Linked DNA regions of Homo sapiens: region 1 is linked to region 2. Evidence: fine-mapped expression QTL. A gene starts in region 2. The other region holds a variant in brackets. All regions are shown on one strand. Distances are from middle to middle. Region 1 overlaps ZSCAN5A (zinc finger and SCAN domain containing 5A). Region 2 holds the start of EDDM13 (epididymal protein 13).

Region 1 (16,080 bases), 31 kb before region 2:
TTTCATTCTAATGGATTTTATTTCAATTATGTAATGCAATTACATTTAACATAAATGAGGAAAATATGAGTGCATCAGCAAAGAATTGTTTCCACCCAAAACAGTAATTCAGTGGGAAAGATGTGATAAAGGCCGATTGTTAATAAGAGCAACAACAAAAAATATGTCAAGTTGGAATGAGCAAGATGGCTATAGGGATGATCTTTTTCTTTTTTTTAATGCAGTGAGGATTTTGCTTAAATAGCTTTGCAAGCATGCCTGTGTCTCCGCTGCCCTTTTAAGGGACAAACTGGAAATTGTAGGTCCATAGACCTATACAACAACAACAACGAAACCCCCTGGTCTTATATCAAAAGATTAGCAAATGCCTGTACAATTTTATGTTTTAAAACAAAATGGTAAAAGTATTTTTAATTACCTATTGGAACCAACTTATTTGATGAACCAACCAGTGATGGTTCTGATCATGATGATAAGAGAACTTCTACCCTACTGTTACTATCCCCATTTTACAGATGATAAAATAAGGCATTAAGAGACAATACCTTCCCCAAGCCTGCATATCTATTAAGGGGTGGAGCTGGGATTCGAACCCAAGAAACCTGTCTCCAGAGCCAAAGCTTTCAACCAGGACAAGGAACCTCCTCCAGAATAGGCAAGAAACATGCAGGCTGGAGAGCTGGATACGGCTTCCTCCTGGAACAGCCATATCCTCACAACTGTATTTCCTCAGGACGGTGGGGGCAGCCCCAAATCTTTACACAAAAGAATACGGACTTTGGAATGAGTCCAACTGGGTCAAATCTCAGCTGTGTAGCTTAGTGTGATGTTGGACGAGCCATCGGTCTCTCTGAGCTGTAGTGTCTTCACCTGTAAAGTGCACAGTTAACTGATAGCGTTTGATTCTTGGTAATCCACCAGCATACCTGTTAGTTTTCAGTGTTGGGCGAATGGAATAACCCAGCCTTTTCAGCCATTTCAACAAGTATACATTTTATTATGGAAGTAGTGGGGAAAGTTCGAGAACGATCTGGAGGAGAGATTTTAGGGGAAACTCCTGCAGTTGCTCTCTCAGCCGCCCTGGGTGCATCCCCCTAAGGCATGGCCCCCACAGACACCTTCTGGCCATGCCTCTGGGCACCCAGGTGCCATTCCTTAAAGGACCCAGTTCATTACCCTCCACACAGGCAGTCCAGGGGACAGAGAGCTTTCTTCAGAGGTTAGAATGCCTGGGAGATGGAGGCCTTGTGAAGGCTAAGCTGAGATGGAGCAGGCTCACTAGAAAGAACAGCAGGGATCATCCCTAAGAAAGGAGAGAGAAATGTATTTGTGCATTGATTTTCGTCTTCATGCATTCTCATACTCCTTGCCTGGTGCCCTCTCCATCCACCTCTACAGGGCTCTTTGTGACCTGCCTCAAGCCCACCTCCTCCCTCCAGCTTAGCCCATTCTCCCCACTCACTAGGTTCCACCAAGTTTGTCCCTATTCCCACCGGGCTGTTCCAGCAGCTGGAACACGCTTCCCTCAGATCTTATGGACCCTAGCTCTGCCCCATCACCAGGGCAAGTGTCTCCTCCTCAGAGCAGGGCTCTTCTAGAAACCAGCCAGTGGGAAGCAGCGCCCCCTCCAGTTCCTCACTGTCCCGGCGCCGGGCCTGAGCTTGTGTTGCACCCCTACCTCCCACTAGAGGGCGCGCCCCGCAGGAGCAGGGACTGCCCAGGCCTGGCTGGGCTGCACCCCCTAGCCTGGTGTGCTGGAGTCACTCAGAGTTGCAGGAAGAGAACCTTAAGGTTTGCTTCTGGGTGCTGGAGTTCCAGGGATGGATCAGGGGTACTTCCTGCTCCCACAGGGGCTCACAGTCTATGTGAGCAGGGGCCCTCAAACTGTGTTCCGCAGGGCCAACTGCAGCCTGCATCCCTTTTAATAAAGTTTCTTTTTGTAATTGAGGTAAAATGCAAACATAATGCATAACATAAAATTCACCATTTTAACCATTTTGAAAGGGCACAATTTAGTGGCCTTCATTACATTCGCCATGTTGTGCAATTGTCACTTCTAAGAGTGGAACATTTTCATCAACCCAAAAAAGAAATCCATTAAAAGCAGTCACTCCCCTTGTTCCTTCCTCCCCTCAGCCCCTGACAACTAGTAATTGGCCTTCTGTCTCTTTGAATTTGCCAGATCTGTCTGTTTCATATACATGGCATCATCTACTGTGTGATCTTTTGTGTCTGCTTCTTTCACTCAGCACAGTGTTTTCAAGGTTCAGCCGTGTTGTTGCACGTGCCAGGACCCCATTCCTCTTTTGGGGGCTGAATAATAATCCATTGTATGAATGCACTACGTTTTGTTTATCCTTTCATCAGTTGTTGGGTACAGTCACAGCCATCAGTGTATTCTCTACGATTGCTTTGACTAGAGTAGTTGCAACAGACCATATGACCTGAAAAGCCAACACGTAATATTTGGCCCTTCACAGAGAAAGTTTGCCAACCTCTTGCCTAATGGGTTGAAAGCACACCTTTATATGAAAATAACTATCTGGTTTGACCGGTGCTTTAATGTATGGTTGAAGAGAGCCTGAGAAACCGTTCAACACCATTCATTTCCTTCAGCATCCTCCCCAGTGGAATCTGAAGGATTGCTGTTGGTTCCTGAACCAAAGCATTGCTTAGGTGAATCTTGAGGACTGAGGAGGACTTTTCTAGGTAGACAGAGATCAAGGAATCAATGTGTGCAATGGCATAATGGAGCGGGAAAAAAAATGTGATGTTTTGGGGGGAATCAGAAATGATTTAATATGGGGGGGCGTGGTGGCTCATGCCTGTAATCCCAGCACTTTGGGAGGCCGAGGTGGGTGGGTCACCTGAGGTCAGGAGTTCGAGACCAGCCTGGACAACATGGTGAAACTTCATCTCTACTAAAAATACAAAAATTAGCCAGGTGTGGTGGTGCATGCCTGTAATCCCAGCTACTTGGGAGTCTGAGGCAGGAGAATCGTTTGAACCTGGGAGGCAGAGGTTGCAGTGAGCTGAGATTGGGCCACTGTTCTCCAGCCTGGGTGACAGAGTGAGCCTCCATCTCAAAAAAAAAAGACTGGGAGCCACCGCTCACGCCTGTAATCCCAGCACTTTGGGAGGCCGAGGCGGGCGGATCACAAGGTCAAGAGATCGAGACCATCCTGGCCAACATGGTGAAACCCCGTCTCTACTAAAAGTACAAAACTTAGCTGGGCGTGGTGGCACTCGCCTGTAGTCCCAGCTACTTGGGAGGCTGAGGCAGGAGAATTGCTTGAACCCGGGAGGCGGAGGTTGCAGTGAGCCAAGATTGCGCCACTGCGCTCCAGCCTGGCGACAGAGCGAGACCCTGTCTCAAAAAAAAAGGTTTAATATGGACAGGGGATGGAATGTGGGTGGGGGGATCAAGAGAAGTGGAGAAAAGTTTAGAGAAGCAGGAGGAGCTTGGAGCCTGAGAACCCTTGGGTACCATGCCAGAGACCTGAACTTGATCAATGGGGCAGAGGCTTCCTGCCAGGTTCCCTGAAAACTTGGGATCTTTTAGGAATTCCACAAAGGTTTGCTTTGATTTTCATTTCAAAAATTAAACTATTTTTTAAAATAGGTGTGTACCCAAAATATAGCACATGGACTGAAATTTTTATTCACTGGAGAGCCACACCAACCTGTTGCATGTTTTACATACAGACCTTGGGGAAAAAATTGTATTACCTGAAGGGCATGTACACTTCACAAGGCAAACTATTAGGCATTTGCAGTGACTTATCTCTGTGGGCTCAGATTTTTCTCCGTATGAACAATTAAAAGGAAACACTGCAAGATACGGGGTAAAAGAGAGTAACGTAAGACAGCAGAGGCCTTCTGTACCCTGTGCTTGCAAATCTCATCACCTCACTTCATAATAAGTAAATGTCACACAGTTAACCTTAGGAAAAGTACCTCTGGTAATGAAAAGCAACTTAGAATTTTTTATATATTGGGATTCCATGTAAGATTTCAGTAGAAAAGTGTTTTGGATTTTCTTTCTTTTAAAGTTTGAAAGACACTCATCATAGTTGGTGAGTTTCCACTGGTGGATTTAAGCAGGACTGCAGCAGGGGGTGGGGGTATATCGTATGATCGAGTTGACATTTTTTAATGTAAAAAGGGCACTGGGGATGCCAGGGAGAGGATGAAAGGCAGGCGACGTGGGAGAGGCCAGGGAGGAGCCTCTTTGTAGCTATCAAGGGAAGAGAAATCTCCCATCTGTCCTTAGTACTTTCTCTGGCGACGTGGGAGAGGCCAGGGAGGAGCCTCTTTGTAGCTATCAAGGGAAGAGAAATCTCCCATCTGTCCTTAGTACTTTCTCTGGCAACAGGGGAGAGGCCGGGGGGGACCCTCTTTGCAGATACCGAGGGAAGAGAAGTCTCCCATCTGTCCTTAGTACTTTCTCTGGCGACGTGGGAGAGGCCAGGGAGGAGCCTCTTTGTAGCTATCAAGGGAAGAGAAGTCTCCCATCTGTCCTTAGTACTTTCTCTGGCGACGTGGGAGAGGCCAGGGAGGAGCCTCTTTGTAGCTATCAAGGGAAGAGAAATCTCCCATCTGTCCTTAGTACTTTCTCTGGCGACGTGGGAGAAGCCAGGGAGGAGCCTCTTTGTAGCTATCAAGGGAAGAGAAATCTCCCATCTGTCCTTAGTACTTTCTCTGGCAACAGGGGAGAGGCCGGGGGGGACCCTCTTTGCAGATACCGAGGGAAGAGAAGTCTCCCATCTGTCCTTAGTACTTTCTCTGGCGACGTGGGAGAGGCCAGGGAGGAGCCTCTTTGTAGCTATCAAGGGAAGAGAAATCTCCCATCTGTCCTTAGTACTTTCTCTGGCGACGTGGGAGAAGCCAGGGAGGAGCCTCTTTGTAGCTATCAAGGGAAGAGAAATCTCCCATCTGTCCTTAGTACTTTCTCTGGCAACAGGGGAGAGGCCGGGGGGGACCCTCTTTGCAGATACCGAGGGAAGAGAAGTCTCCCATCTGTCCTTAGTACTTTCTCTGGCGACGTGGGAGAGGCCAGGGAGGAGCCTCTTTGTAGCTATCAAGGGAAGAGAAATCTCCCATCTGTCCTTAGTACTTTCTCTGGCGATGCGGGAGAGGCCAGGGGGACCCTCTTTGCAGCTATCGAGGGAAGAGAAACCTCCCATCTGTCTTTCGTACTTTCTCTCCGTACCCTGGACCCTAGCCTTGACCAGGCTACCGTCATCTCGTGGAAACTGAGTAGCCTCTTAACTGGCCTCTACACTTCATGTCACTGGGACGTGTCTCTTTCTCACTGACAGCCTTTCCGTGGCTTCCCATGGCTCTGAAGGTTGGGTCTAAAATGCTTGCTCTAATCTTCCAGGTCTGAGGTGGTCTGCTGAGCATGTCACCCACACTCCTCCCATAGTGCCCTCCCACTCCCTCCCCCTTCTCCTGCCCCCATTTTTCTTTCTGACTCCAGGCACATCTAGGCCACTTTCCACCCCAGGGCCTTCGTACAAGCCAGTTCCTTCACCTGGAGGCTCTTTCACTTGTTTTCTGTGTATCTGACAACCCCTCATTCTACAGGCCTTTGATTCATTGTCACTTTCCTAAAGAGGCTTTCCTTCATCACCCAACTATCCAGGGCAAGGTTCTTTAGTTCTCTTTTTCATCATATCCTCAGCTTTTCCTCTAGCTCTAAGTATCACCTGTAATCATCTAATTGTTTTCTTGTGAGCTCAGGAATCTTGTCTGCCCCGTTCACTACTGCATCCAGGATGCATCAGTGGGTCGTTATAAACACAGAATTATCATATGACCTAGCAATTCCACTCCTAGTTTGTACCCCAAAAGATTTTAAAACAGATATTCTAACATAACTTGTTCATAGCACCACGACTCACAACAGTCAAAAGGTGGGAGCAACCCAGTGCACTTTACCTGATGATGGATAAACAAAGTGTGCTATGTCCATGCCGTGGAGTGTTATCCAGCAGAAACGAATACAGTCCTGATACAAGGTATACCATGATGAACCTTGGAAATATTATGCCAAATGAATAAACCCAGATGCAAAGGGCCACGTAGTGTATGATTCCATGTGTATGAAATGACCAGAGTAGGTGAGTTCTCAGAGACAGAGAGTAGACTAGTGGTTGCCAGGAACAGGGGGAAGAGACGATGTCTTGGTACAGAGTTCCCTTTTAGGATGATGAGAAGATTCTGGAAACAGATTAGTGGTGATGGCCACACAATATTTTGAGTGTACTGAATGTCACTAATGGTTAATTTTATGTCGTGTGTGTTGGGCCACAAGTCCTAAGACTTGTGAAAAAATTATAGAGTGAATTTATAAAGGAGTTCCTCCTGCCCGGCACATCCCTGTCATTTACAATGTGTTTCCTTGCCCCTGTCAGGCAGTGGCTTGCAAGTAAGGGTGACGAACTTGGGACTTCTCATGGAATTCTGGGTTTCTATGATTGCAGCTTCCAAATCCACCTGTGTTCCTTACCTCAAATGCCAGGCAGTTGGGATGAACCTCCCCTAACCCCACCCCAGCGGTGGGAAAAGCCCACTTCCCTGCCATAGCATACCTGATGTCCAGTTCCAAGTTACAGTAGTGGCAGTAACACTTGGGAGGAAAAAGTGAACTGGGAACAGAGAAAGAAACAGTTGGGGTGAGGCGAGTGAATTCCTTCCTTACCTCCCTTTCTCCCCATCCCCCTCTCGCTTCTTTCCCGTCCTCCCCCTCTGCTCTTTCCCTCTGGTTGTAACATCTTCTGGTCTTGCTTCTCTATTCAGCCCGCCTCTCACCACTCCCACCTTCTTCCCCATCTTCCAGCCAGTTCTCCTCATCCCCATAAGCAGCACAATCCCCTAAGCTGGGGTTTCTCAGCCTCAGGTTCCTGACGTTTTGACCTGGGTTATTTTTGTCGTGGCGTGTTGTCCTGGGCCGTATGGCAGGTTGAGTGGCCTCCCTGGCCTCTGCCCACTGGATGCCAGTCGAGCTCCCTCCTCCAGCTGTCACAACCAATCCTGTGGTCCAGACACTGCTGAGTGTCTCCTGGGTGGCAACGTCACCCCCGTTTCAGAACCACTAGCATAACTGAAGTCACTGTCTCAGGCTCATCTCCCTGGTCTCTCCATTTTCCTTATTCCTCACACCCAGCGCATAAGCAGTTCCTTTAGAACTGCTGCACGGCTCTCATCTCCATGAGCACCGCCAGGTCCCCTGCGCTGGCTGGTCGGGCCTCCTCTCAGTGTGTCTCCTCCTCTCAGTCTGTCTGCTCCCACTCTCGCCCTGATTCCGATCCACTCTCCACAGGCAGCATTGAGAAGGATCCTTTGATAACTCAGAAGGGATCTTGCTGGCGGCTGTCCACTAGCTTAGAACACAAGCTTCCTTCTCGTGGTCTATGAGAACCTTACATGACCTGGACCCCCCTGCCCCTCTCAGGTCACATAGATGTTCCTTTGGTTCCTCGAAGGTACTCAGTGTGTTCCTGCCTCAGGGTCTGCTGTGCATGCCTGCTTTGCTTGCAGTGGTTGCCCCCAAGCTGCTCTGAAGGCAAGATCCTTCCACTGTCTCATCTCTTATGTCCAGACGTTACCTGCCCGGGGAAGGCTGCCCGTGGCCATGGCTGCTCACTCTGTGATATCACCCTGATTTAGTTCATGTTTTTTGGAGCTGGCTGCTTGTTTCTCTGCAGTCCTCCTGCTATCCCAAACATGGGAGCCCTGGGGACTCAAGGACCTTATGGGTTCCGTTCTTCTCTGAGTCCCCAGCATCTAGGATGGGTCCTCTACACACGTGAATATTTGAAGACTGACTGAATCAATGAATGAAGGATGACTTGTCCTTCCTTCCATCCCTCCTTCCCTTCCGTCTTGCCTCCCTCCCTCCCTCCCTCCTTTCCTTCCTTTCCTTCTTTTTTTTTCTATTTACTTTAATTTTTTGAGACAGAGTCTCACTCTGTCACCCAGGCTGGTGTGATCTTGGCTCACTGCAACCTCTGCTTCCCAGGTTCAAGTGATTCTCCTGCCTCAGCCTCCCGAGCAGCTGGGATTACAGGCATGCGCCACCATGCCCGGCTATTTTTTGTATTTTTAGTAGAGACGGGGTTTCACCATGTTGACCAGGCTGGTCTTGAACTCCTGACCTCGTGATCCAGCCGCCTCAGCCTCCCACAGTGCTGCGATGACAAGCGTGAGCCACCGTGCCCGGCCTGGCTTGTAGTTTCTTGCACCCTGCCTTATTTTCACCTCTCTGAGTCTCGCACATGGTGTTTCTCTGGAATGCTTCCCCTGCTTCCCCTCCTCAATTGGCTAATTCCATTCTGTCCTTAACCCACAGCAGAGGTGTCACCTCCTGCAGAAAGGCTTCCATGAGCCCACACTTCCCCTAGGCTGAGATAAGCGCCACTGCCTCCTGCACTAGCACCTGCTCATGAAGTGCTACCACTCGGTGATCTGGTTCTCTCTGTGGATGTCTGCCTCCCTTACAGAATTAGGACCTTCTTGAAGGTAGCTCAACCATCAGAGTCCCCAGCAACCAGCAACAGGCTTGGTCCTTATGAACGTCCCTTAGAAAGAACAAGAGACAGCGGCAGAGAGAGAGGCAGAATGAGTGACAGTATTTCAAAGGAGCCCCTGGGGCTGTGTTAGTGCAGAAGGGAGAAGTTTTATCCCAGTCTAGAGGTGGGAGGGAGGGAAGAAGGAAAGAGAAGGAAGGAGAGAGAAGGAGGGAAGGAGGAAGGAAAGAACAGGGAGGGGGGGAAGAAAAGGAAGGGAGGAGGAGGGAGGGAGGAAGAGGGAGAGGAAGAAGAGGGAGAGGAAGAAAAGGGGGAGGAAGAAAAGGAAGGGGGGAGGGAGGGAGGAACGGGGAGGAAGAAGAGGGAGGGAGGGAGGAAGGAAAGAAGGGCAGAGAGGGAAGAAGGATGGGAAGGAAGAAGGGAGGGAGGAAGCAGACGGAGAGAGGAAGAAAGGAAGGAAGGGAGAAAGGGAGGGATGAAGGGAGGAGGAAAGAATAGGGAGGGAGGAGAGAGAAGGAGGAAGTAAGGGAGGGAAGAAAAAAGGAAGAGGAAAGGGAAGGAGGAAGGGGAGGGAGGGAGGGAGAAAAGAGGGAAGAAGGAGAGAGGAAGGAAGAATGAAATGAGAGATGGAGGCGGGTGGGAGAGTGGGAAGAAGAGAGTGTTTTACAGAAGGGCTCTCCCACCACTTCCTGCTTGGCACCTCTGAGGCACCCTCCTTCGCTTCCTCTGTGCCCCCACTTCCCTCCTCTTTCCTTCCTCTCCTCACACTCCTCCCCTCCGTGCTGCCTTCTTCTTACCCAGTCCCCTTTGTTGTAGGATACGAAGAGGTAGGTCATCACCATGTAGGCGCATTTCAGGAAGTTCCACGTGTTCTTCCTCTTGGGGAGTGGTTTCCTGGATGGGGTGGTGCCTGAGAAGGGTTTAACTGGAGAGAACCGTGGAGATGATTGATGCTGATGGCCTTCCCTTCCTGCCTTAGAGCTTCCTGTCACTGCTGTCTCTCCATTCTGATCTCCAAACTCACATCTCTGCCTGCCTCCTGAATTGAAATTTTGGTCCACACCCACCATCACTGCCAGCTTCCCCCTTCTTGGTTACCACCATACTCCAGACAAACAGTCAGGAATGCCTTTTGGCTCTCCCACCTCACATCCAAGACATCACCAAATCTGACCCTGTCTTGCCCAGATTTCTCACCAAACTGTCAGAGGGGTTTGAACCAGAGTGACTCCGTCTTGAATAGGGGCTGGGTAAAATGAGGCTGAGCCCTACTGGGCTACATTCCCAGTAGGTTAAGGCATTCTTAGTCACAGGATGACAATAGGAGGTTGGCACAAGATACAAGTCGCAAAGACCCTGCTGATAAAACAGGTTG[C/T]GGTAAAGAAGCTGCCAAAACCCACCGAAACCAAGATAGCGATTCAAGTGACCTCTGGTGGTCCTCACTGCTCATTATATACTAATTATAATGCATTAGCAGGCTAAGAGACACGCCCACCAGTACCATGACAGTTCACAGATGGCATGGCAACTTCAGGAAGTTCCCCTACTGGCCTAAAAAGGGGAGGCACCCTCAGCTCCAGGAAATCTCCACTCCTTCCCTGGAAAACTCATAAATAATCCACCCCTTGTTTATCATATATTCAGGAAATAACTATAAGGAGACTCAGTCCAGCAGTCCTTGCTGCTGCTCTGCCTATGGAGTAGCCAGTCTTTTATTCCTTTACTTTCTTAATAAACTTGCTTTCACTTTATGGACTTGCCTCAAATTCTTTCTTGCACGAGATTCAAGAACCCTCTCTGGGGGTCTTGATCGGGACCCCTTTCTGGTAACAAAACCACCACCTCTCCCCCATCCCCAGGCTTCAGGCTCTGCTCTTGATGGCTGCCTCTGCCCACTACGCCATCCTTTCTCTTTCTCATCCATCTCCCACATGAGTGCCAGCAGGATCTTTCTAGCACCAGATCCGACCGTGTCGCTTTCTTATGTCAAACCTCATGAGGTGCAAGAGTGTTTCTTTCGCCTGTGTAACATTTTTCCCTTGTCTTTTTATTTTAAAAGTATTACATTCAGAAAATCTCATTTTTTTTTTACACGTAAACCTGTCTGTCTAAACAGGTTTCCAATCAAAAAATAAAACATTACCAGTGTACAGGCAAATGCAAATCGAAAACGAAAAAAAATGAATTCTCCCTGTTGAAAATTCAGGAAGCGATTACTCCTTGTCCCCTTTGCTTAGAGCATTTACTTTAGAAAATTTTGCCATTGCAAGTCTCTCTCTCTTCAACGTTTACACTAATCTTTTTCAAAGCTAAGTAAGCCTGCGGCCAGCATTATGACCCAGGAGGGTGTTTTCAAGGACCTCGAAACATCTTCCCCAGCTTCTTGTTGGGAGGGGATGGAGCCTAACTTTGGTGGGCACCTCACCCCAAGTAGCAAATCTACCTCCTGTGATAAAGATACTAGAAGTTTATTTTTCCCTTGGATTAAGCCAATTAACAAACACAGTTGGCTATCCCAATAACCAAGTGAATTTACGGTGAACCATGTACAGCAAATAGAGCTGTCAAGTTCTTTAACTTGAGGACTAGCTGTTGTTTATCTTGAGAGCAGGTATGTAATAAGTTGTATCTGCTTGGCTATATAAAAGGGTGAAATTTTTTTTTTCTGTCTTTGCAGTCTCTTCGCATATCATGTTCTGGTTTAATGCTTACCCATTAATAAAACTATTTTCTTTCTCTTCTACCTGGGTGGAGAAGAGCTCTGGGTTTGGAGGATATTTTGTTTTTAATTATATTTCACCAACACCAGCATATCCCAAGCCTCTCAGATATACCCTCCCAATCAAAGGTACACAATCACATCTATAAAAAATGAGGCTCATCTTTCTTTCTTCACAATCCTTTTGCCTATTATTACCTTTCTCTTGCCTGGCTAGGATTTGCACTGGATAGAACGTTCAGTCCAATGTGAAATGCAAGTGGTGATAGCAAGAACGTCTCATCTGTGATCTCAGAGGGAACATGTTCTACACCCTCAGCCCTCTGTGTCGCTGGACTCTGCATCTGAGGACCCAGCCAAAAACTGGTCAAAAATACTTTTTAAAATCCCAATAAAAATAGCAATACAACAATAAAAACAATACAAAAATATAACAGTACAATAACTAAGGAGCATTTACATTGTATTATAAGTAATCTAGAGATGATTTAAAGTGTGCAGGAGGCTGTTCATAGGTTAAATGCAAGCATTATGCTATTTATATCACGGACTTGAACATCAAGGAATTTTGCTATCTGCGGGGAGGTCCTGGACCCAACCCCTGAGGATACTGAGGGACAACTGTGTTTTACCTTAAACAGCTTGTTCTTTGTAAGTTTTTGGTGGCTATTCCTTATTATATTAAGCTGTTCTCTCTACTCCTAGCTAGCTGAGATTTTTTTTTTTTTTAATCATGAACAAGGCTGGGCATGGTGGCTTATGTCTGTAATTCCAGCACTTTGGGAATCTGAGGCGGGAGGCTCACTTGGGCCCAGGAATTTGAGACCAGCCTGGGCAACATAGGGAGACCCAAACTCTACAAAAAATTTAATAAATTAGCTGGGTGTGGTGTCTCGTGCCTGTGGTCCCAGCTACTCAGAGGCTGTAGAGGGGAGGATCACTTGAGCCTAGGAGTTTAGGGCTGTGGTGAGCCGTGATCATACCACTGCACTCCAGCCTGGGCAACAAAGCTAGACCGTGTCTCAAAAAAAAAATAATGTAAGCTGTAAAATCTTACCATATTCTTTTTCTGTATCTACTGAAATGATAATGTGCTTGTTTTCTTTTATGTTAATAAGGTGGGAATACCATATATTTGTTTTTACCTATTAAACCATTGTCGCATTGCTGGAATAAAGTGAATTTAGTCATGATTGTTTAACATGTATTGCCAAATTGCACTTGCTAATATTTAGTCTAGGATTTTCCATCTATATTTATGAGGAAGATTGGCCTGAAATTTTCCTTTGTCGTATTTGTCAGATCTTTTATCAAGGTTATTCTGTCCTAAAACCGAGTTGGGAAATGACTGTTTTTAATTTTCTGGAAGATTTCCTGTAAGATCAATGTGATTTCTTCCTTTTAATTCACTATTAAAGCTAACTTGATCCTGAAAGACTTTTTTGTGTGTGGTAAGGCTATTTAATTACAGGTGGCATTTCTTTAATAGATAGAGGATTATTCAGATTTTTTTTTTTTTTTTGAGATGGAGTCTTGCTCTGTTGCCAGTCTGGAGTACAGTGGCACGATCTCAGCTCACTGCAGCTTCCGCCTCCCAGGTTCAAGTGATTCTCCTGCCTCAGCCTCCCGAGTAGCTGGGACTACAGGCACCCGCCACCACGCCTGGCTAATTTTTTTGTATTTTTAGTAGAGACGGGGTTTCACCAGACGGGGTTTCATCATGTTGGGTGGGATGGTCTCAATCTCCTGACCTTGTGATCCGCCTGCCTCGGCCTCCCAGAATGCTGGGATTACAGATGTGAGCCACCGCGCCCAGCCCAGATTTTTTATATCATTTCATTTGTTTTTGGTAATTTGTGTTTTTTTGGGATTTTGTCCGTTTTATCTAAACTTTCAATTTTATTGGCATAAAGTTTCTCCAATGATCACCTTATTGTTATTTTGTTACCTGCAAGATCTGCTATGATACTCTCTTCTTCCTTCCAAATATTGGCAGTTTGTTTCTCCTCTATTTTTTCTTGTCAGTAATGCTAGAGGATTAAATTTGTATTACGCTTTTCAAAAGAACCAACCATTAGTGTTGTTCTGGCTTTTTTTTTTTTTTTTGAGACTTGCTCAGTTACCCAGGCCGGATGCGGTGGCACAATCACGGCTCACTGCAGCCTCCACCTCCCCAGCTCAAATAATCCTCCTGCCTCAGCCTCCCGGGTAGCTGGGACCACAGGTGCTGCCACCATGCCCGGCTCTGCCTACTTTAAAACGCTCATCTCCACCATCTGGATCACTTGGTGGCTTGCTGCTATTTTCTGGTTTTCCGGCCCTCAGTCCTATCACCCAGGACTTAGCTTGGTAATTTCCATGTCGGGAAGAGAGGACTCACAGTCCACAGAAGCAGCAGCTGGGATAGAAATGTCTCCCACTCACATCTCAGTATGTTGGGTCTCCTCGATGCCCATGAGCAGTGTGAAAGGGGCAGTGGCTTGCAGACTTTGGATGCCCTTCAGGAAGGCAGCCTCTCAGGTACCAAAGCCCCTGCAGGGCCTTGATTACCTGAAATCTTCTCTTCTAAGGCTTTATCATAGCCCAGACAGAAGGGACACACTGTCTTATAGATGAGGAATGGTACGACCCCAAGCACTTACCTTCCTCCTTGCAGCCACTTGTTTCTTCTAAAAATGAAGAGATGGAGGAGAAAAAGAAGCAGGAAGAGAAGGAGGAAGAGGAAAGGAAGAAAGGGAGGGAGAGAGGGAGGGAGGAAGAGGAAGAGGAAAGGAAGAAAGGGAGGGAGAGAGGGAGGGAGGAAGAGGAAGAGGAGGAGAAAAGAAAGGAAAAGAAAAGAAACCATCAGGTGAATTATGAAGTGGGTGGAGACCAAACTCTAAATAGTGCTTCCAGGTGCCTCGAATGAGGAGAGAAGAGAATAAAGTTAGTCTCCCTGTGTCCCTGGATCCCAGGGACTCAGCTGCCTCAGGGCCTTTGCATATACTGTTCTCTCTTCCTGGAATGCCTTTCCCCCAGTTATCTCTGGCTCACCTGCCCTTCTTCTTCAAGCCTTTGCTCACATGTCATGTTCCCTGATCGCCCTTTAAAAACTTTTTTTTTTTGAGACAGAGTTTTGCTCTTGTCACCCAGGCTGGAGTGCAATGGCATGATCTCGGCTCACTGCAACCACTGCTTCCCAGGTTCAAGTGATTTTCCTGCCTCAACCTCCCGAGTAGCTAGGATTACAGGTGCACACCACCATGCCCAGCTAATTTTTTCTATGTTTACAAAATTTGTTTCAAAATAATTGTTTGTATTTTAGTAGAGACGGAGTTTCACCATGTTGGCCAGGCTGGTCTCGAACTTCTGACCTCAGGTGATCCACCCACGTCGGCCTCCCAAAGTGCTGGGATTACAGGCATGAGCCACCATGCCCAGCCAAAAAACTTAAGTTTCCCGCACTGCGTTTCCATCCCCATTACTCTATTGTCTCCATAGGACATAATAGCCTTCAGCAGACCTATAACTACTGCTCTTTGTTTTTTCTCCTCTGATTGGAATACAAGTTTCACTTGGTCACAGACTTCTGTCTGTTTTATCCTCTGCTGCATCTCTAACACCTAGAATAACATTTGGTACAGGAGAGCTAACATCAGTTAATATCTGTTGGACAAATAAAAACATGTTAAACATTTATGATGCAGATGATGATACGGATAAAGAGTGTAGGGTCTGATGATATTTAAGGGACCCCCCACCATAGAAAAAACCAGTACCTGTATATTTCTGTGCACAGGAGTGAACACGAAATAGCAGTCACCAGACTTACCATGCAGTACTTGGAGGCTCAGCAAGCCTAAGGAGGACAGGGGCATACAACGCGAGTCAGAAGGGACAGCATGATAAACACTTCCAGACCAGCAGGTCCAGCAGGCTCGCCCCAAGCCACTCCTCCTCCGAGAAGCCCTGCTGGATTGCCCGCATCGTCCTCTTGCACACTGTCCCCACTGCCACCTCCCCCCTGTGCCACACAGATTCCTGTTGTAGTTTAACTGCCTGTTACTTTTCCATCTCCCCACCTCCACTAGACTGTGAGTTGACGTGAGGGTGTGAGCTTGTCAGATCCATCTTTCAGCTTTCCACCACCCTGCCCAGCCCTAAAAAGCATTCCTCCCAAACCAGCTTCCTACAGAGTCCCGGGGCAGGCATGGAGTGAGGTGTCACCTAGGATCTCTGATGATGTCCATCCAGAAGGAGATGGGGTCCAGGAAGCAAGACAGGTCAGGGGAGCAGACAGGCCCAGAGTATGGAGTTCCCAGGAGCCGTGGAAGAGGAGGCCACATGTAGGGAAAAATCACAACATCAGAAGACAGAGCGATGGGAGCACAGGAGAGCGGAGCCCTGGGTGGGTCGTGCTGAGTAGTCAGGACATGCCACAGTGAACAGCGCAGAACAGTCAGAGGCTGCTTCGTGTGGGTTGGAGGGACGTGCAGTGACTTGCAGGATTTGCACCGCAGCAAGGTTAGGCTGGGAAGGAAGCCGCCACGCCATTCCCATCTCTTCTGTTTGTTTTTGTTTTGTTTTGTTTTTTGTTTTTTAGACGGAGTCTTGCTCTGTTGCCCAGACTGGGGTGCAGTGGGACGATCTCGGCTCACTGCAACTTCTGCCTCCCGGGTTCAAGCGATTCTCCTGCCTCAGCCTCCTGAGTAGCTGGGAGCACAGGCACCCGCAACCACACCCGGCTAATTTTTGTATTTTTAGTAGAAACGGAGGTTTCACCACGTTGGCCAGGCTGGTCTAGAACTCCTGACCTGAGGTGATCCGCCCGCATCAGCCTCCCAAAGT
Region 2 (16,080 bases):
GAAATAATTAATATCAGATTCTTTCGGGGAAGGGAAATGAGTGAATAGGTTGGGAAGGAGTTTTTTCCAGTATAACCTTGAGAACTTCTTTAATTCTGAACCCTGGAAATCTTATTTTAAATGAAAATAACATGATGTTTTAAATTGAATAATTAATTAGTAATTTAAATGTAATTAAAGTTTATGTAAATACTGTTTTGTTAATTGAAATATTAATAAAATAATTTAACATAAAACATTTTAATTAAAACAGCATAATATTTTAAATTGAAACAAAAACAGTGTGGATCATGAGATGTTTGCATTTGTTTAGGTTTAGAAGGTTCAGCTTTTGAAGATAGGAAGGAACTAACATAGGCTAGCTTTTTAGGTATAAAAAACCCAAAATGTTATCTGCAGGCATTTTAGCTCACCAAGTCTGGTGTGGGGATTAAATATTTTTAAAGTTTCCCATGTGATTCTCATGATGATGGTCCAGTGTGAGGATTCAGAGCTTTGGAAACCTCAGACCCCATATGGGACACTTACGATTTTGAAAATTAAATTGCATGACGTATTTTAAATTCTCAGTACATGCTAAATGCTTAATTAATATTGGATCCTTTTATCTCCTTTCAACCTGAAATAATAGCATTAAATTATGTTCTCACAGTCCTTTCCATTTTGCAAGGCTCTTTCCATTTATTTAGTCCTACTGAGCGCTAGGAATTTTGCTAGGCTATAGGAATAAACAGATTGAGTAAAGTACAGTCCCTGCCCTCTAGGAACTTACAGTCTTGCAGTCTAGTAGGGGTGGAAAAAAAAGAGATCTTTTTCCCTTCCATGTGACTTGGAGCAGAAATTCTCGAAGTATCATCCAAAGACTACTTGGTGGGGGTGGGAGGTGGTCCCTGAGATCCTTTCAGGGGATGTGATGGTTGATTTGGGGTGTCAGCTTGACTAAGGCACCCATATAGCAGTAAGACGTTTATTCTCAATGCTTCAGTAGGCACTGAGTCCATCCGTCTTCTGCTGAAAGGGAAGCCTGAGTGGTTTGGCATTTGATTAGAATGTTTGGGCTGCCCCAGGTGTGTCTGTGAAGGTGTTTCTGGAGGATATTGGGGTGTGAGTTGGAAGACTAGGTAGGGAAGATCCACCCTCACGGTGGGTGAGCACCATCCAGTTGGATGGAGGCCCAGCTGAAGCCAAGAGGTGGAGTAAGGGTCAATTCTTGCTCTCCCTTCTGCAGCTGGGATGCCCTTCTCCTGGCTTTGGATGTCAGAACTCCAGGTACTCCAGCTTTTGGGATTCTAGGACTTGAACCAACAGCTCCCTGAGCTCCCAGGCCATTGGCCTCAGACTGAGAGTTAGTTAGACCATCCATCAGCTTCCTTGGTTCTGAGGCCTTCAGACTTGGACTGAGCCACACTACTGGCCCTCCTGGTTCTGCAGCTTGCAGACCCCACAACTGAGTGAGCTAATTCCCCTAAGAAATTTGTTCTCAAATATCTCTATCAATATCTTTATCTATATATGTATCTATATGTATATCTTCATGGTTCTGTCTCTCTGGAGAACTCTGCCTAAAACGGGTCTGCATGATCTTCCCTTTTCCAACTCCTTATCTGTGTGAGATTAGATTTTCATTTGCTTCAACCAAAATAGCACATTGTGGCTGGGCGGGGCGGCTCACGCCTGTAATCCCAGCACTTTGGGAGACCGAGGTGGGCAGATCACTTGAGGTCAGGAGTTCAAAACCAGCCTGGCCAACATGGTGAAACCTTGTCTCTCCTAAATATACAAAAATTAGCCAGGCATGGTGGCATGCACCTATAGTCCCAGCTACTTGGGAGGCTACTTCGGATGCTGAGGCAAGATAATTGCTTGAACCCAGGAGGCAGATGTCATGGCGAGCCGAGACCGTGCCACTGTATTCCAGCCTGGGCGACAGAGCAAGACTACGTCTCCAAAATAAACAAACACATAAAGCTAAAAAAAAAAAAAATAGCACATTGTGACAGACTGAAGCAGAAATGAGAATTCAGCTGTTTTCTATTAAACTAGACATCAAAGAGATTTGCAAAAATGTAAAATAATACCTTTCTTACTAAACTTTTTTGGTTTGGAAACAGCCATTTCACTAAAACATTTTATTTATGTCAGTATGTATATTTATTATCCTTATTTTTCAAATATTTTTAATTTCAGTAGCTTTAGGGGTACAAGTGGTTTTTGGTGACATGGATGAATTGTGCAGTGGTGAAGTCTAGGATTTTAGTGCACCAGCATCTTTGTAATGTACATTGTACCCAAAAGGTAGTTTTCATCCCTCACCTCCCTGCCACCCTCCTTCCTTCTGAGTCTCTATTATCCTTATTTTTTTAATGCAGTAATAGATATTTGAATAATAGCTTTACTGAGATATAATTCACATACCATGCAATTCACCCATTTCAGTGGTTTGTAGGATACTCAGACTTGTACGACCATCACTACACCAGTTTTAGAGGCTTTAATCACCCCAAAATAAACCCTGAACCCCTTAGTCATTGTCTCTAAATTCCCCCACCCCTCACCCCCTGGAAATCACTAATGTCCATTGTGTCTCTATGGATTTGCCTATCCTGAATATTTCATATACGGTAAACGGAATCAGGTAATATGTGATCTTTTATCACTGGCATCTTTCACTGAGAATAATGTTTTCAAGGCTCACACACGATGTTGAATGCATCAGAACTTTGTTTCTTTTTATGGGTGAATAATATTCCATTGTATGCATAGACCACACTCTGTTTCTCCATTCATTAATGGATGCATGCTAGGATTACCTTCACTTGCTAGCTCTTAGGAATAGTGCTGCTGTGAACATTTGTGCATGGGTTTTTGTGTGGACTTACGTTTCATTTATCTTGGGCACATACCTAGAGCGGAATTGCTGAGTAACTCAGTGTTTAACATTTTGAGGAACAGCCAGACTGTTTTCCAAAGCAGCTGTATCATTTCACATTCCCACCAGCAGCATATGAGGGTTCTGATTTCTCCACGTTAGTTAGTGTGAAGTGATACCTCACTGTGGCTTTGGCTTCCATTTTTCTGATGGCTAATGAGGTTGAGCATCTTTTTATGTGCTTATTTGTAAATAGAAATAGTTTTTGTAAATATAAGTATTTGTATTTGTAAATATTTATAATATTTGTAAATATAAATATTTTTAAGTTAAAAATCCTTGAATTTACAATAAGGTAAATATCAATAAAGATAACCTTTGGCCGGGCACAGTGGCTCACACCTGTAATCCCAGCACTTTGGGAGGCCGAGGTGGGCGGATCACCTGAGGTCAGGAGTTCGAGACCAGCCTGACCAACATGGTGAAACCCCGTCTATACTGAAAATACAAAATTAGCCGGGCATGGTGGCGCGCAGCCTGTAGTCCCAGCTACTCGGGAGGCTGAGGCAGGAGAATCGCTTGAACCCAGGAGGCAGAGGTTGCAGTGAACCCAGATCGCACCACTACACTCCAGCCTGGGCGACAGAGCGAGGCTCGTCTCAAAAATAAATAAATAAATAAAAATAACCCTCACTGGAAAAAAAAAAAAAGAGCTCTTTAGATCCTTAATAATTTTTTTCGCGTGTTCAGTGGCCCTAAGACCATGAAGTTTGCAAACCACCAGCTGGTGTTAAACATAAGCCAAGGTGTTATTCTAATGGAGATCTGCCCGAAGTCTCTCTTCCCTGATAAATGCTCTTCATTTTCCGAATAGGCCTCTCTTCCCCAGACAAAGGAGTGAAGGAGGGCTGCTCTTTTAGTTGTGAGCATCACTGTAAGCAAACAATAGGTTTGCTTTTCTGAGTCATGTCCAGACCCCATGGCAGGTCTGTGCACCAGATCCAAGTGCCACCCTTCCCCAGAATTGCCAGAGAGGTTGCAAGATCGAAAAGAATTTTAGGAGAGGTAGCTATGAAAATACAGACTTGGGGGTTCCACGGTTCTTACTTTTTTCTTTAGTTGCAACTGGAGACAAAAGCATCAGCCAGCCAGTTCACAACGGGAGCAGGGAGCAGAGAGAGAAATTAGCATTAGACTCAGATCAGTGCAATAACCAAGAAGACCAGAGATAGAAGTGTCCCTGGAGATCAGCTGACCCACTCACTGCTATCAATAAAGCTACTCGGGCCCATCTATCAGCCCATCCATCCATCGATAAGTCCATTCGTTCATCATCCATCCAACCAACATTCACATGGTACATGCTCTGGGCATTGGCCCATGTTTGGTGTTGGAGACGCAGATAAATCAGATTCAGCCCCTGCTCTGTAGGTATTTGCAAGGCTGATTGGGAAGAGAAGTTCTGGTATAAGAGTACACTAGACACCCCAAACTCTGTTCTCACAGAACTTGCTATCTATGGATGTCCCAAACATCTTACAGGTGCTTCAAGCTTAGCCTGTTCAAAAAAGAATCTGTGGTCATCACACTCCTATCCATCAAAAAATAATCTGTTAATGCAATACTTTTTATTTATTCTTACTATTTTTTGTAGAGATGAGTCTCACTATGTTGCCCAGGCTGGTCTCAAACTCCTGGCCTCAAGTGATCCTCTTGCGTTGGCCTCCCGAAGTGCTGGGATTAAAGGCTTGAGCCACTGCACCCAACCAATACGATAAATATCCCTGAGTTCACGCTGATATAAATAAATACAGTACTTGAATAAATAAATGGAGAAGAAAAGTCAGCTTTTCCTTACAGAGAAAGGCCATTGAATATATGTAGATGAATAAGGGGAATAGAAAATCACCATTGGAGAAGCACTGTAGCAATCATTTCTGCAGCAAGATCCACAGATGGATGCTAAAATTAATGGGCAAAAATTGGAGGAGAACAGGGTATTCGCATAGCCTCAAAATTTCTCCCCCAGCGTATTTATTAATTACAAAGGGGGAAAATAGTAACTTAACAGTGGAGAAACCTGGCAGACACCACCTTAGCCGAGGGACTAAAGTTTACACCATGGGTAATAAGACACATCAACATCATGTGGTCCCTGATATAATTCCCGGGGAAGGGTGTGAGACCACTTCTGTGGTATTCCTGCCCTAAATGCATAGTCTCAATCCAATCATGAGAAAGCTTCAGACAAACCCAAATTGAGAGAAATTCTGCAAAACAACTGATCAGAGCTCTTCAAATGTTTCAGGGTCGTGAAAGACAAAGATTGAGGAGGTTCAATCACACATCCTAAGGACAAATCACAAGACCAAAGGAGATGGGATAACAAAATGCAACATGGTTGAGCAAGAGCTGGATTTTCTGAAACAAAACAAAACAAAACAAAACAAAAAACTTAATTGAAAATACAAGGTGGGATCCTGGATTGGATCCTCAAATAGAATAGTTTTTCTATTAGTAGAAACATTAGTAAAATTTGAATGAGGTCTGTAATTTCTTTAATAGTTTTGTTCTGGTGTTGGGTCTTGCTTTTAGTCATTGTGCTATGGTTAGGTAAGATGTTAACAGCTGAGATAACTGGGTGAAGAATATTCAGAAACTTAATTTTTGTGACTTTTCCTCAAGTCTAAAATAATTTCAAAATAAATTTTTTAAAAAACGTGTTCCTCTACAGAGTTTTTTTTTTTTTCTTTTTTTCTTTTTGAAACAGAGTCTTGCTCTGTTTCCCAGGCTGGAGTGCAATGGCAGGATCTCGGCTCACTGCAACCTCCACCTCCTGAGTTCAAGCGATTTTCCTGCCTCAGCTTCCTGAGTAGCTGGGATTACAGGCCCCTACTACCATGCCTGGATAATTTTTGTATTTTTAGTAGAGATGGGGTTTCGCCATGTTGGCCAGGCTGGTCTTGAGCTTCTGACCTCAAATAATCCAGCTGCCTTGGCTTCCCAAAGTGCTGGGATTACAGGTGTGAGCCACCGCGCCCGACCTCTACAGAGTTTTCTCATCTCAGTTAAGGGCAGCCTCAATTCCCCAGTTGCAAATACATGTATGTATAAAGAGAGCCTTTCTGCATGCTTCTCTATCCCCAACCACCAGCATCTGACCCATCACTCAATCCTGTGAGCTGTTTCCTCAGTGCCTCGTAACCTTCTACTTATCCCCATCTTCACCCTGATGACCAAAACGTTTTCTAACTTGTGTGTTTGCCCCTAATCTGATTCCCACCTAATCCATTCTTTCCTGAGGGCAAGACACATTGTTTAAACACACAGAAACACACATACATGCACACACACGCTCCTAAATATGACACTCCTTTGCTGAAAACCCTTTCACAGCTTCCTTTTCCCTGAGGATAACATCCAACATTTTTCCTGTGACTCACATGCCCCCGTCTGTTCTGTTTCCTGCCTCCTGTCTCTTCTTACTTGTAACAGTCTCACCACCATGCCCCTCCTTCTGCCTACCACGTTCCTGACACACCGGCCTCTCTCTGATGGAGGGACTCAGTGCCTTCTGCCCCAGGACCTTTGCATATTCAAGTCTCTGCCTGGAATAGTCTCTCCTAACTCTTCAGCTGGCCAGCTCCTATTCCTTACCTCAAATGTGACTTTTCTAGAGAGGCCATCTCCGAATCCCCACACTAGAATGTGTGTGTTTAGCATGAGAATTCCATGAAGACAGAACTATTTTCATCACTATATTCCCAGCATCAAGCCCGTGGAAAGAACCAGGAATAAACATTTGTGGATCGAATGAGGAAATGGGAACTCAGAGTTATGGCAAGACCCAAGTCCTCTTCCCAATATACTCTTTGGTGTCTTTACGTCGCAAAAGTCTGGAGTCTCACTAGAATTATCTAACTATGGTAATGTTGACTTCCAGGCACTGCACAACGTAAGCTCGTCAATGACATGCAACAGTCCCATGAACTGGGGATTCTTGTGAGCCCCGTTGGTCAGATGAGGACAGCAAGGTTTGCAGACGCAGTGTCTCCCCAAAGTCACAGAATCAGTGATAGAAACCAGGATGCAGACACAAGTGTATCTCCAAGGGCAGGGGCTAGCAACCTAGACTCATTCACCCCACTGTGTCCATCAAGGGAAATGTGAATGTCTAAATGGGAAGCAAGAAGAAGTCTGTTAGACTTCAGGAGCTTCTCTCTGAATCCAGCCCACAAGAGCCTCCCAAGTTGTAAGAAAATACATAGAGGACACAAGGCATGGCTGGAAGCATTACCTTCACGAGGAGTACAGGCTTCTGCCAATCCCAGGAAAAGCAGAATCAGCAGCGACATTTTCAGAAATGGCTCTGATCTGTGCATGATGGGGCTGGGATTTGGGCTGAATGTTCTCCTCCTAGGATAGACAGGACTCTCTGGTCACCCACCGTCTTCCCAGGCTCCAGGGACAAAACTAACTGCCCACACCTGCCCTCTAGCCTGCCTGGAGGCTGGCAGGTCTCCAGACCTGTGCCCACGCCACCAACTGCTGACCAAAGAACTGTATCTGCTTTTTCATCTTAAAGCAACATTTTAGAACAGTTTCATGCTGAGTGTGATGCTTGTCATCCTATGATCTGCTGGCCAAATCCTGCCCTCCTCCTGTTTTTGTAGGGCCTATGAGCTAAGAGTAATTGTTACCTTTTTTAATGGTTGGAGGGAAAAAACAAAAGAAAATATTTCATGACATGAAGATTATATAGAATGTGAATTTCAGTGTCCATGAATAAAGTGTTATTGGAACACAGCCATGCCATTTCACTATGTATTGTCTACAGCAGCTTTCAGGCTGCAAGACTGAGCTTTGTAGTTGTGACAGAGACCATCTGGGCCAAAAGGCCTAAAATATTTACTGTCCGGCCCTTTATAGAAAACGTTTGTGGACCCCTGTCCTAGACGTACTGTAAATTTCAGAAAAACAACAAAGCAAGCAAACAACATCTATCGTATTTCTACTCAGAAGTAAGTATTGTTTTTACATTTTTGTGTATATTCCTTTCCAAAGATGTCTACGTTTATACTTACCTCTAGCACTTACTAGCTATGTACCCTGAGCAAGTTACTTAACCACTCTGTGCTTCATTTTCTTGATCTATAAAGTTGGGATAATGATATTTCCAGGCTAATGTGATACTATCATATCACACCTGTATGATAGTAAATTTGTACTGTTGTAGCCATTAAGTTTGTAATAATTTTTCATAGCAGCCACAGGGAACTAACTGTTTCCACTGGTAATTCTTAGAAATTGCTTTGACAGTCAAGAACTTTAGCTGTCAGTGGGAATATGAACTTGACCCAGTATCCCTCTGGACTCCTGGAATAAAGGCAGAGTGTAGAGACCACTGGTCTATCTAAGCTCTGAAGGTTTCTATGGTACTTCCTTCAAGCCTGATAGAAACAGAGGGTTGTGTGTAGTGTCCTGGAAGGAAAGAGTTCCAGGTGTGGAGGGATGTCCACTCTTGCAGGGGACTCTCTCCTGCCGCCATCTCTGGTGCTATCTATGTTTCAATCCCTAGTACAAGCTGGACCATCTCATGTACATTAGGGGATACCTCAGCGATCCTTCAGACTAGGCTGGAGGAGAGAGTTCTTGTTGGCCATTTGCCATATTTCAGAGCTCCCCTCCTTTGTGAGCACATGGTCCTGGCAACTCATCACCGGGAAAACGTGATACTACAGGATTTGTTATAATGAGCAGAAGAAACAAGGCGTAAAACATGTGGAAGGCTTTTCACATCCGGTGCTATGCGGAAGTAAAGACCACCCAATGAAAACAAGCAAAGGCTATTAATTCAGAGCTTGCTGTAATAAGGGAGGCCACTGACACCATTTGTGTTTGGCACAGACTCAAAGGCAGGCAGGGTAGTGGGAAAGCTTATAGTGAAAGAAAGGGAAGGCTTCAAGAGTGCCTGGTTGGAGGCCGTTGGCATAAGGAAGCTGGCAGTGGTTAATTAGAGGCCATTGTGATTGGTTGGGGGAGCATATTTGGATTTCTCTGATTAGTCCTACGTTTCGATTTTCCATCCTTCCTTAGCAGCCTCATTACCAGCACAGCTGTTTCTTTGCTTTATCAAATATAATCACAGTCCCTAACTCATAACACTAGGGTTTAAATGCAACAAATGCCTGGGATGTAGAACATCATTAATATTCTTTAGCATTATCTGCTCTGCCAGACTGTGATCTGGGGACAGAGATGAGTCAGATACTGGCCTTGCTCATGAGGAACTCATGCTTTAGGGAAGATCAGGATTTCTCACCATTGGCACAGCTGACATTTAGGACTAGATCGTTTTTGTGGTGGGGGCTGTCTTCCGCTTTGTGGGATATTTAGCAACATCTCTGGTCCCTATCAATTACACAGTAGCACCTGCCCCACCCACCCCACACCAACCACCACCGCCACCATGTTTGGGGAGCCACAACTAGGAAGTGATGAGCTTTTAGTGCTTATTACTCTATTTTTATTATAACTTATTTATGTTCAAGTTTATACAATTTAGTTTTGAGTATTGGGCTATGTTAGGCAAGCAGCTAAAATGAGGAATTTTACCTCAATTTAAAAATGTTTTAAATGTAGAAAACTGAAAACGTTAACAATTGACCCTCATAAGCTGGCTCCAGTACACGTATGTAATATTATTTTGTGTGTTTTTACATTTATTCTAAATGGTGTTTCACTGAATCTTTCTTGCACAACTTGCTAGCTATGTATGTATTTATTTATTTATTTATTGAGACGGGGTCTCACCCTGTCGCCCAGGCTGGATTGCAATGGCACGATTTCAACTCACTGCAAGCCTCCGCCTCCTGGGTTCAAACGATTCTCCTGCCTCAGCCTCCTGAGTAGCTGGGATTACAGGCGTGCGCCACCACACCTGGCTAATTTTTGTATTTTTAGTAGAGACAGGGTTTCACCATGTTGGCCAGGCTGGTCTCGAACTCCTGACCTCGTGATCCACCCACCTCGGCCTCCCATAGTGCTGGGATCTTTTTTTTTTTTTTCACCCAGCGTGATGTTTGTGAGATCCACTCATGTCTATGTGGAGCAGGGAAGTGGTGCTGGACCTGGAGACGGCAAAAAACCTGGTTGTTATAGTCACAGACAGCCAATCAGTTAGAATCACAGACATTGAGTCAATCCAGTGTGGATGCCAATCCCTGCCCCACCACACTACGGCTGGCCTGAGTTTCTTCTTGCTACCATAACAAATTACCATAAAATTTGTGACTTAAGACGACATAGATTTATTATCATACAGTTCTGGAATTGAGAAGTCTGAAATGGGTTGATAGAGTGAAAAGCCTTGGTAAAGCTACATTCCTTCTGCCGGCTCTAGGAGGAATTTGTTTCCTTGCCTTCTGCAGCTTCTACAGGCTGCCCACATTCCTGACTCCTGGTCGGCCTCTTTCATCTTCCTAACCAACAGCATGGCGTCTTCAAATCTCTCTCCAACCCTCTCCCATTTTCAGGCCAGCGATGGCCGGTCAAGTCTTTCTCACCGTACATTGCTCTGATTCTCTGTTTTCATCATTCCGTCTCCCTCTGTTACCCATTTCCCTCCCTCTTTCACTTACAAGATCCTTTGTGATTACATTGGACCTACCCCAGTAATCCAGGATAATCTCCCCACAAGGTCAGCTGATTAACAGTCTTATTTTTATCACATCTGAGAGTAACACACTCCCAGGTTCCAGGAGTCAGATGTGGGTATCTTCAGGGACAATTATTCTGCCTGCCTCACAGATGCATAAACTTGCTCAATTGACTATATCCCTGAGCCTCGGTTTCCTCCTATTAATGATAGCAACAATTATTATCATTAATTATTATATTATTATGCCATATAATTGTGAATGTTTTAAAGTATATTGAGGGGATGTGGAGAAATTGGAGCTCTTATACATTGCTGGTGGAAATGTAAATTGGTATAGCCCCTGTAGAAGATAGTTTGGCAGTTTCTCAAAAAGTTAAATATAGGGCTACCGTATAACCCTGAAAGTCCACTCCTAGGTATGTACCCGAAAGCACGGAAAACAGGTAATTACACAAATATTCACACACGAATGTTCACAGCGACACTATTCACTAGAGTCAAAATATGGAAATGATTCGAATGTCCATCAATAGATTAATGGGTAAAGTGTGGTATAGCCATATAATAGGATATTATTCAACTGTAAAAAGAAATCAAGTACTGATACATGCTAGAACATGGGTGAACCTTGAAAATATTATGCAAAGTAAAAGCAGCCAGACACAAAAGACTACCTAGTGTATGATTCCATTGATACGTAATATCCAGAACAAGTAAATCCTTAGAGACAGAAAGTAGATAGTGGTTGTCGGGGACTAGGAATGGGGAGGGAAAGAGGAATGGCTGCTTAGTGAGATGGGGTGAGGGGTAAGGAAAGTGTTTTAAAACTAGATGTGGGTGACGGTTGAACAACATCGAGAATGCACTAAAGGCCACTGAATTGTACACTTAAAATGGTTAATTTTATATCATATGAATTTTACCTCAATTAAAAAAGTTTTAAATGTAGAAAAATGTGTTAAAAGCTCTAAAAATAGCAATTAAAAATCCCATGTTACCAAAACAAAACAAAGAAAACAGTACAAGCATAGGGACTGTGCATATTAAAAGTAACTAAATTTAAAAAGTATTAAAAGTAACTAAATTTAAAAATTAAACCAGCAGCAGCAGCAGCAGCATCTGAGGCTTCTACAGGGAAACAAGTGGAAATAGTTCAACCCCTCTGTACAGTTCCTGGGGCAGTCCCAGAGCTTGAGCAGGTGGGAGGGATGAGCATTCTGTCCCTGCCGCAGGGGCCATTACACCCACAGGGGCAGCGCCCACACAAGGGGTCTCGGCTGCAGCTGGCATGACTGGCTCAGCCACACCAATGCTTCTGTGTCCTGGGCAGCCTGGCTTCCCAACCCCCAAGGAGTCCCAAGCCACTGACTAGGTCCTAGAATAGACAACCCATGTCCTGGGCTCTGGCTGGCTCTCCAGTCAGTTCCTTCACATCTATCCTAGATAGAGGAGCCCTTGGAGTCTTCTGTCCCCCACTAAACAGATAAGGGAGCAATGGGTCAGAAGTTTCAGGGATTTTTCCCAGAAGGGACCTGAAAAGTGTCATCGGATTTAGCCAGGCTCTGAAATCATAGAGGTGCGGGATCAAACCTCAGCTCCCTCCACCTCCTGGCTGTGTGCACTAGGACAAGGATTTCTTTTCTTTGGACCTCAGTTTCTCAGGGAGTAAAAATGGAGGTGTCATAGCAACAGTCGATACTTTTTCTAGCACTGACTACATCCCAGATGCTCTTCTAAGAGCCTTTGCCTATAATAACTCCTACAACACTATGAGATGGGAACTGTTATTAGCGTCATTTTATAGATGAAAAAAGTGAGATCTAAAAGCATAAGGTCCACTCAGAATCACACCACTAGTAATTGGCAGGACTGGGATTCGAAGCTAAGTATATGAATCTGCAGTGAATGCTCTAAACCAGCCCTGTCCAGTAGAACTTTCTGCAGTGATAGGAATGTCCTGTATCCGTGCTACCCAGAATGGTGGCCACTAGCCACGTGCGGCTGCTGAGCACTTGAGGTGACGCTAATGCAACTAAGGAAATGAAGTTTTCATTTTATTTCATTATGAAGCATGTAAATCTAAATAGCTACGTGGTAAATCTAAATAGCTACATATATTGGACAGTGCTGCTCTAAATCATGATACTAAGCGCCTCTCAGCCTTAATAGACTATATACCTAACAGGGTTGCTATGACAGTTCTGACAGAGCCATATGTGTAAAAGCACCCTCTGTGAACCAAGCAGTCTCGGTGTTGGGGATGCACTTTCTCTAACCCTGTGGAGTTTATAGTCTGGTGTAGGAAGACAAACAACAATATTGACAAACACATATATAATTTCATGTACTGGTCATTGCTGCAAAGAAACTGAAATAGGGCCATGTGTTAGAGACCGATGGGGTTGAGATGCTGCCGTAGCTAGAGTTGTCAGGAGAGACCTCACTGAGATGGTCACATTTGAGTTTAGATCCTAATGAAGATCTGGGGTAAGAGTAGCTTAGACAGAGGGAACAGCTTGTGCAAAGACCCCGAGGCAGAAAAAAGCAGAAGGAATTTGACACGCAGAAAGAAGATCATTGTGGATGGAGCAGGGTAAGCTCATGGGAATGTGGAGGGAGGAGAGGTTAGAGTGGTAGGCAGGGGCCAGATTGTCAACAAACCTGAGTGGGCTCCGCCGTGAGAATGATAGTAAGCACAAACCAGGAACATTCCTCTTTGTCTGCTTTCCCTGGGCCCTCTTACACCCACTTGGTTCTCTATTAAATATGGGCATCTCCGGCCAGGCACCGTGGCTCACGCCTGTAATCCCAGCACTTTGGGAGGCCAAGGCAGGTGGATCACGAGGTCAGGAGATCGAGACCATCCTGGGTAACATGGTGAAACCCCGTCTCTACTAAAATTACAAAAAATTAGCCGGGCATGGTGGCAGGTGCCTGTAGTCCTAGCTACTCGGGAGGCTGAGGCAGAAGAATTGCTTGAACCAGGCACCGAGATCGCGCCACTGCTCTCCAGCCTCAGTGACAGAGTGAGACTCCATCTCAAAAAAAAAAAAAAAAAAAAAAGTGGGGGCATCTCCCAAGCAGAAAGCAAAGCCTAAGCCTACTCACTTCTTTGGGGAGAGAGGAAGAAAGTCTTGGACAGTAATTGAGCATCCTCTTTGGGCACCTGCCCCAACAACTTCACACACATTATCATCTCATTTAACTGAGGTTGGATCTGCAAAGGCAGCTTGGCTTGGCAGAAAGAGCGGGAGCTTTGGAATGAGGGCCTAGATCTCACCGTGGGCTCTATCACTTGGTGCTATTTTTAGCAAGCATGCAGTAATAATCATAATACTCTCAGCAGTTAAGCTTAATTGGGTGATTATGATGTGCCAGACGTGGTTCTAAGCACTTCATATCTATTAGCTCATAATTTTAAGAGCTGGGTAGTATTATAATTTCTCTTTGCAAATGAGATAACTTTGCCCAAAGTCAACAAAGCCAATAATTGGAAGAGGTAGGATTTGAATCTATACAGGTATGATTGACATTTGTGAACTTGTTTAGCTGCTAAGTCTCTATACCCTGATTTCCTTTGGAAGAATTACCTCTGCTCCACTGTATGTGGTCCTGGTGGGATAGTTAATGCACGTGCCCATTTTCTCATAATGAAAAGCAAGCAGGGTCCCTCAAAGCTCCTTGCACCAGATCCTTATTTTTACACTAAAGCCAACCAACCTTTGTCCTAAGCCAGGCTAATCAGACTGCTTACCTGGCACTTTAAATCTCGAATTGAGTAAAGCAAGAGTGGAAGAAGCAGATTTAATGCTTTTCAGGTGAGAGTGTTGAGTGGCTCATGATACAGAAATCTCTTGGTTTCCCAGGCTTCACTCTTTCCCAAACCCACTCTCCAGCCTTCACTTTAATCCTTTGAACTCCACCCCTTTGCCAGTTCCTTCCAGTGATTTCTCTTTTAAGCTAGCCAAAGTCCGTTTCTGCCACTGGAACCCAAAAAACCTGCTTGATTCAAGAAGTTCAGCTCTGTTTGTGTTCTAAGGCAACCTCTGGCTGCTGTCCTTCTGTACATAGTCTTCCTTCCATTGGATCTCTCAAAGAGAAAGCTCACTTCCTCAGTTTACTTTCCACCAGCTTTAAGTTTCAAGCCTTACTGCTTGCTTACAGCTTTAACCACTTACATAGAGTATAGGTGCATACTAGATGCTCAATTAATATTTGTTGAAATGGTATTCAAGGTGAAAGATTGAGAAGTGAAGATGGTTTGGAATTGTGTTGTTGATGCCTTTATCATGGGAGTGCCCTGTGCTAGGATGGATCTGAGAATGGTTTTTTTGTAATTCTGAAATAAGCCCATGTGTCTCCCCTACTCCAAATCCTTCCATGGCTCAACATTACATACAGGATAAGCATTTATTTAATTTATTTATTTATTTTTGAGATGGAGTCTCACTCTGTCACCCGGGCTGGAGTGCAGTGGTGTGATCTCAGCTCACTGCAACCTCCGCCTCCCAGGTTCAAGCAGTTCTCCTGCCTCAGCCTCCCGAGTAGCTGGGATTACAGGCGCCTGCCACCACACCTGGCTAATTTTTGTATTTGTAGTAGATACGGGGTTTCACCATGTCTGCCAGGCTGGCCTTGAACTCTTGACCTCAAGTGATCCACCTGCCTCGGCCTCCCAAAGTGCTGGGATTACAGGCATGAGCCACCGCGCCCAGCCCTAGGATAGCATTTATGACTAAAAGCTTTAGTGTGACCTAGATCAAGAGTAGGAAAACTTTTTCTGTCAAGAGCAAGATAGTAACTATTTTTGTCTTTGTTAGCCATATGGTCCCTGTCGCAATTACTCAACTTTGCCACTGTAGTGAGAAAGCCACCAGAGACAATACATAAGCAAGGGGAGCTAGCTATGTTCCAATAGAACTTTATTTATAAAAACAAATGGTCAACTATAGTTTGCCAGCCTCTGATACAGACTCTTCATACTTCATAGTCCAGTCTCCCAACACTTCCTCATCTTACCTTGATTTCTACTAAATGAAACTTTGACTTCAGGATTCAGATCTGATGTCACTTCCATAACACATCTTTCTTGGAATGTACTGCATCATTCCTGGAAGATGGAAGATCTCAGTTAATAGGAAGACCTGAACAAACAGGTCATTTTCTGTAGTGGAATGAGCATGAGCTTGAGAGTCAGATCCAGGTGTAAATCCCAATCCTGCTACTCCCTTACCCTGAGATAGTGTCCAAAAAGTCTTTCTTGGGCTGGGTGTGCTGGCTCATGCCTGTAATCCCAACACTGGCAGGTTGAGGCAGGTGGATCACTTGAGGTCAGGAGTTCGAGACCAGCCTGGCCAACATGGTGAAACCCCATCTCTACTAAAAATACAAAAAATTAAGCTGGGTGAGGTGGCGGGTGCCTGCAATCCCAGCTACTCAGGAGGCTGAGGCAGGAGAGTTGCTTGAACCTGGGAGGCGGAGGTTGCAGTGAGCCAAGATAGTGCTGTTGCAGTGAGCCAAGATCATGCCATTGCACTCCAGCATGGGTGAC

Evidence for each region. PIP is the estimated chance that this variant, and not a neighbour inherited with it, causes the effect.
Region 1: its variant is fine-mapped to the expression of EDDM13 in sun-exposed skin (GTEx, PIP above 0.99). The same link has a PIP of 0.9 or more in unexposed skin.

The regions. Positions count from the first base shown.
Region 1 is chr19:56,295,347-56,311,426 of GRCh38, reverse strand. The region is part of intron 2 of ZSCAN5A (zinc finger and SCAN domain containing 5A); the gene reads left to right. EDDM13 (epididymal protein 13) reads right to left here. Exons shown (of 15, transcript NM_001354658.2): 10 at 15,460-15,468; 11 at 15,065-15,091; 12 at 13,896-13,922; 13 at 9,332-9,459; 14 at 6,597-6,634; 15 at 973-1,303. The coding sequence ends at 1,279. It overlaps LOC124900420, which reads right to left. Exons shown (of 5, transcript XM_047439799.1): 5 at 973-16,080. The coding sequence starts at 5,186. The coding sequence ends at 4,068. Among named protein-coding and RNA genes, the nearest start is that of ZSCAN5A-AS1, 11 kb to the left of the region's middle. The variant C/T (reference allele first, on the strand shown) is at 9,910.
Region 2 is chr19:56,264,006-56,280,085 of GRCh38, reverse strand. It overlaps EDDM13 (epididymal protein 13), which reads right to left and starts at 7,338. Exons shown (of 15, transcript NM_001354658.2): 1 at 7,167-7,338; 2 at 3,977-3,994. The coding sequence starts at 7,251. All of the region lies in intron 2 of ZSCAN5A (zinc finger and SCAN domain containing 5A), which reads left to right. LOC124900420 reads right to left here and starts at 7,338. Exons shown (of 5, transcript XM_047439799.1): 1 at 1-7,338.